Regions from separate parts of the Homo sapiens genome. Here region 2 is linked to region 1. The links come from fine-mapping of genetic effects on gene expression. Tissue or cell type: whole blood. Region 1 holds a variant in brackets; the other region holds the start of a gene. All regions are shown on one strand. Distances are between the middles of the regions. Region 1 has its middle 10 kb from the start of LIX1. Region 2 holds the start of LIX1-AS1 (LIX1 and RIOK2 antisense RNA 1).

Region 1 (2,918 bases):
TCACATTATCTGACTTCATATTGCTGAAAAAATTAAGTGGATAAAATTCAATATCCCTTCATGATTAAAAAAAAAACTCTCAAAAAACTGCATACAGAAGGAACATACCTCAACATAATAAAAACCATATATGACAGACCCACCAACTAGTAGAGCTACAGTAACCAAAACAGCATGGTACTGGCATAAAAACAGACATATACACCAATGGAACAGACTAGAGAACCCAGAAACAAATCTGTACATCTATAGTGAACTCATTTTCAACAAAGGTGCAAAGAGTATACATTGGGGAAAGAACAGTGTCTTCAATAACGCTGGGAAAACTGGATCTCCATATGCAGAAGAAAAAAACTAGACCCCTGCCTCTTACCATGTACAAAAATCAAATCAAAATGAATTAAAGACTTAAGTCGAGGACCTCAAACTATGAAATTACTACAAGAAAACATTGGGAAAACTCTTTAGGTCATTGAAATAGGCAAAGATTTCTTGAGTAATACCCCAGAAGCACAGGCAACCAAAGTAAAAATAGACAGATGAGATCACATCAAATTTAAAAGCCTCTGCACAGCAAAGGAAACGATCAACAAAACGAAGAGACAACCCACAGAATTGTAGAAAATATTTGAAAACTATCCAACTGACAAGGGATTAATAACCAGAATAAATAAGGTGCTCCAATAACTCAATAGGAAAAAAAATTTAGTAATCTGATTTAAAAATGGGCAAAAGATCTGAATAGACATTACTCAAAAGAAGACATACAAATGACAAACAGTTGTATGAAAAGGTGCTCAACATCATGGATTATCAGAGAAATGTAAATCAAAACTACAATGAGATATCTTCTCACTCCAGTTAAAATGGCCTTTATCCAAAAGACAGGCAAGAACAAACACTGGGCTGGGCACAGTGGCTCATGCCTATAATCCCAGCACTTTGAGAAGCCGAGGCAGAAAGATTTCTCAAGCCCAGGCATTCAAGACCAGCCTAGGCAACATGGCAAAACCTTGTCTACAAAAAAAAAAAAAAAAAATTAGCCAGGCATGGTGGTGCATGCCTGTGGTCCTAGCTACTGGGGAGACTGAGGTGGGAGGGTCACCTGAACCTGGGAGTTCCAGGCTGCAGTGAGCTGTGATCATGTCACTGCACTCCAGCCTCTCCAACCTGGGTGATAGAGTGATAGAGTGAGACCCTGTCTCAAATTAAAAAAAAAAAAATGCTGGCAAGGATATGGAGAAAATGGAACCCTCATACAATGTTGGTGGGAATGTAAACTAATACAACCACTATTGGAGAACAGTTTGGAGGTTCCTCAAAATCTAAAAATAGAGTTACCATATTATCCAGCAATCCCACTGCTAAGGATATACCCAAAAGAAATAAATTCGTATATTGAAAAGATATTCGCACTCCCATGTTTGTTGCAGCACTGTTCATAATAGCTAAGATTTTGAAGCAACCTAAGTGTCCATCAACAGATGAAGGGATAAAGAAAATGTGGTACATATACACAATGGAGTGCTATTCAGCCATAAAAAAGAATGAGATCCTGTCATTTGCAAAAACATGGATGGAAGTGGGGGTCATTATGTTGAGTGAAATAAGCCAGGTACAGAAAGACAAACTTCACATGTTCTCACCCATTTGTAGGAGCTAAAAATTAAAACAATTGAACTCAAGGAG[G/A]TAAGAGAAGAACAATGGTTACTAGAGGCTGAGAGGTAGGGTTGGGAGAAAAATGGGGATGGTTAATGGGTACCAAAGAATACTTAGAATGATTTAGACCTAGTGTTTGATAGCACAACAGGTTGACGACAGTCAATAATAATTTATTATACATTTAAAAATAACTAAACAACTATAATTGGATCATTTGTAGCACAAAGAAAGGGTAAATGCTTGAGCTGATGAATTCCTCATTTACCCTGATGTGATTCTTATGCATCATATGCCTGTAGCAAAATATCTCATGTATCCCATAAATATATACACCTACTATGTACTCACAAAAATTAAAAATAAGAAATTTCTTAAACTAACATTTTATATAACATTTACACTTAATTGCATAAGTAGAAGTATGCCTCATATTTAAAATATTACTTGGGACATTTATTACAAGACTATGTCCTTCTAGATTTTAAAAAAGAAAAGATAACTATTTGAAATAAATGAATCACCAGGCATGGCATGTGCCTGCAATTCCAGCTACTTGGGAGGCTGCGGTAGGAGGATGGCTTGAACCCAGGAATTTGAGACCAGCCTGGACAACATAGTGAGACCCCCAAATCATTTTTTTAAATTAAAAAAAAAAAAACTTTAAAAAAAAGAATTAAAAAACCCTCTTACTATAATGCTACTGTTGGCTGAAGAGGTTTGGCCTAGATTAGGAAGAAAATGTACATGTTCACACATCAGTAATTCAAGTGTGTGGGGTATATAAAGTGATATTGGGGAGGAGAGTACACAGATTTTCTTTTTTTTACGATAAACTTTTGCTGGCTTGGAGGCCGCCCCTGTTTTTTTTGAGAGACAAGAATAAACACATGGAACAACTACATGACAATATAGAGAAGGCTGTACCCAAGAGCCTGGTATCACTGATAATTGCTGGGGAAATTCCAAGCACAGTCTGAATGAAAGGGCAGCATAATTTGGTGAATTGTTTTGGGGAATGAAGGTTTGGGTGAATAGGTGAACTAAAAAAGAAAACTTTCAAAGAGGAAATCATGCAGAAAATTCAGAAGACAGAAATGAATGTCGTGTGTTTGCTGTGCTGTAATTGGGAAAATGGTGTTTTGGTGTTGTGAGAGCAAAGGGCCAAATTCAAGCTTATTTTGAAATATTTTTTAAAGTTGATTATTAGGAAAAAGTGACTGTAGATTTTGAAAAAATACTGCAGAGTATTTAAAAAA
Region 2 (2,918 bases), 79 kb after region 1:
TTATGTTAGTCTACACAGGAGCCAAGGTAAAGCCATACTTACCTGGGATTGCATTCCTGCTCTTAAACTTAATGGTTATATAACCTTGGGTAAGTTGTTTAAATTTTCTAAGGCTTAGTTTTTCAATATAAACGCAGAAAAGGCATGTCTAGGAAGAATTAGGGAAGGAAGTAATACCTGAGCCGAGTCTTGAAAGATAAACAGGAACTTTCAAGATAGACTGTTGGGTGGGGCAGGTTAAGAAAAGTGTACCAATGGGAACAACTGTGCAAAGACATGGAGTTGGAAGACAGCATGGAGCTTCAGGAAATAACAAATATTTCAGGGGTGCTGGCTCATGCATCTCTGCTCTACAAAATGGGAGCCCATGAAAACAAAAATCTCCATCTCCTAGCTCAGTACCTAATCCATTATCAGTACTTCACAGCACAGGATAGGTGTTTCAGAAATACTGGTTGAATGAAATAAATGAATAGGTGAATGAAAATATTTAATATTTGCTGCTAAACTAGAGGAAGATCATTGGTCATGTACTGGTTAGGCTGAGTGGCTTAAACAACAGAAATTTATTTTCTCAAAGTTCTGGAGGTGGGGAAGTCTAAGATGAAGGTGCCAGTAGATTTGGGTTTTAGTGAGGGCTCTCTTCCTGGCTTGCAAATGGTCACCTTCTAGGTGGAGAGAGGAAGCTCCGGCGTCTCTTGCTCTTCTTATAAGGGCAAGTAATCCCACCATGGAAGCTCCATGCTCATGCCCTCAGCTCAATCTAATTTACCCCTCAAAAGGCCTACCTCCTCATAGCATAACATTGAGTGTAGGGCTTCAACATATGGATTTTGAGGGGACACAAACATTCAGTCCATGATAGAGACTTAATCGCCTTGTCTAAATTCAAGATACTCTATCTCCTTAGTCGTATATGTAGGATTAGGCTTTTTTCTTTTTTTTTTTTTGAGACAGAGTCTTGCTCTGTCACCCAGGCTGGAGTGCAGTGGCTCGGTCTCGGCTCACTGCAAGCTCCGCCTCCGGGGTTCACGCCATTCTCCTGCCTCAGCCTCCGGAGTAGCTGGGACTACAGGCGCCCGCCACCACGCCCGGGGCATTTTTTGTATTTTCAGTAGAGACGGGGTTTCACCGTGTTAGCCAGGATGGTCTCCATCTCCTGACCTCGTGATCCGCCCACCTCAGCCTCCCAAAGTGCTGGGATTACAGGCGTGAGCCACGCGCGCCCGCCTAGGGTTAGGCTTTATATTCTGTACCTCACTCCAGATACCACATCTTGGGGATAAAAATAATATCACAATGACCACAACAGTATCATTCTCTGGCTCTGTCCTTCACTTCCCACTTCTAGAAGTTCCAACTCTCTCGAATTTCTCCCGCACTTAAGATACCCCCAGGGCACAGCTCACACTTGCTCACAGGCGAATTCCTTCTTACCTTCTGGCATCTGCCATTATCTCTTCTCCTGCTCTTTTGTGCTGTGTCTGATGAATTCTGTGGCTGCTGATACCAAAAGCATCAATAGTCCCTCAAAGATGGTCAAGATGAAATGGGAGAGTTTCCTAACCCCCTTCACAGGATGTGTGACAGGGGTGTGGCTCATCTGTTCAGCCTCTGTGCACTCAAACCCCTTACTGGAGGGGGAGCATGCAGACGGGCAGGTGCAGGAGGCGGGGCAAACACTTTTGGGCTCCAGCCCCATGGTAGTAGCATCCAGGGTGGGTGCCTGCAACTCCCAAAGCCCCAGTGGGCATGTTACAGTGCTCTTTTAGCTCTGCCGTCCACAGACAGCTCAAGTGTTATCCAGCCCAGTGCCCTCTTGGTACCTGGATGCTGGGTTCTTGTCCAGCATCCAGGAAGAATCAGGTCACACAGGCAAATTGAAGGATAGTGAATGCAAGAGATTTTATTGCCAGATGGAGGTGGCTCTCAGTGGAATGGCTGGGGAGTGGGGAAGCGAATGGAGTAGGAAGATGTTCCTCCCCTGGAGTTGGGTCGTCCTGCGGCCAATCTCCTCTCCGACTGTCCCCAGCCAAACTCCTCTCAACATTCAGATGCTGCTTCTCTTCCCTCTTTCTCTACCACGCTGCTCGGCCACACTGCTATTCTTCTGTTCCTCTGCTCTTCTATTCGTCTGCTTTTCTGCTCATGGAGCCTGCAATTTGGGGTTTATATTGGTACAAGATGGGGGGTGGACATGGTGGGCCAAAAGGCAACATTTGGGTGCAAAAACAAGAATGCCTATTCCCATTTAAAGTCATGGGTTTCCAGGCTTGAGGGTGGGGCCTTTGGGAGGGAACCTCCCTCTTCTACCCGGTATTTCCCTGCCTCCTGTCTGTATAAATGCCACCACTGGTGGCCAAGCCTGCCAAAATCGCAGCTGCTCCTGCCATTGCCAGGAAACTAAGACCATCAAGGGATGAGGTCTACTCCCACATCTTCTCAATTCAGGATGAGGTTTGCCCACTTTCCTGTTCAGGCAGTAGCCCCAGAGCTGCTGTCTGACACTCAGGCTGCAAAGCTGTGCTGACCTAAGCTCTAGCTGCCTTAGCAGATATCCAGGAAACAGCTTCTCTGGTTTTTACGGAATGTTTTTTGAAGTCTTTCTCCCAAGGACATGAGTCCACAAGGGCTGAGTATTAAACTTCTCCCTCTTTAACACTGATCTGTTGACTTTGGACCAAAGCTCCATACTAACATGCCTTTTCCACTACAGAAGACACTCGTTTTCCCTCCCAAATCCCCCAGATGGTGACTGAATGTCGGTGCAAACTTAACTTTGGCTCAAGTTGGGATTCCCGCTTTGAGGTGAAACTCCCACAGGCACAATACAAACTTCTTTTGTGCCTCTTTTCTACTCCATGATACTAGACAAATGGTTAATACTTAATAACAATAATAATACTTTTTAAATGGGA

The links. PIP is the estimated chance that this variant, and not a neighbour inherited with it, causes the effect.
Region 2: it holds the start of LIX1-AS1, and the variant in region 1 is the best candidate, but not a certain one, in a credible set for the expression of LIX1-AS1 in whole blood (INTERVAL, PIP 0.67).

The regions. Positions count from the first base shown.
Region 1 is chr5:97,151,275-97,154,192 of GRCh38, reverse strand. No RefSeq gene overlaps it. Among named protein-coding and RNA genes, the nearest start is that of LIX1, 10 kb to the right of the region's middle. The variant G/A (reference allele first, on the strand shown) is at 1,690.
Region 2 is chr5:97,072,358-97,075,275 of GRCh38, reverse strand. LIX1-AS1 (LIX1 and RIOK2 antisense RNA 1) reads right to left here and starts at 1,551. Exons shown (of 8, transcript NR_187470.1): 1 at 1,438-1,551.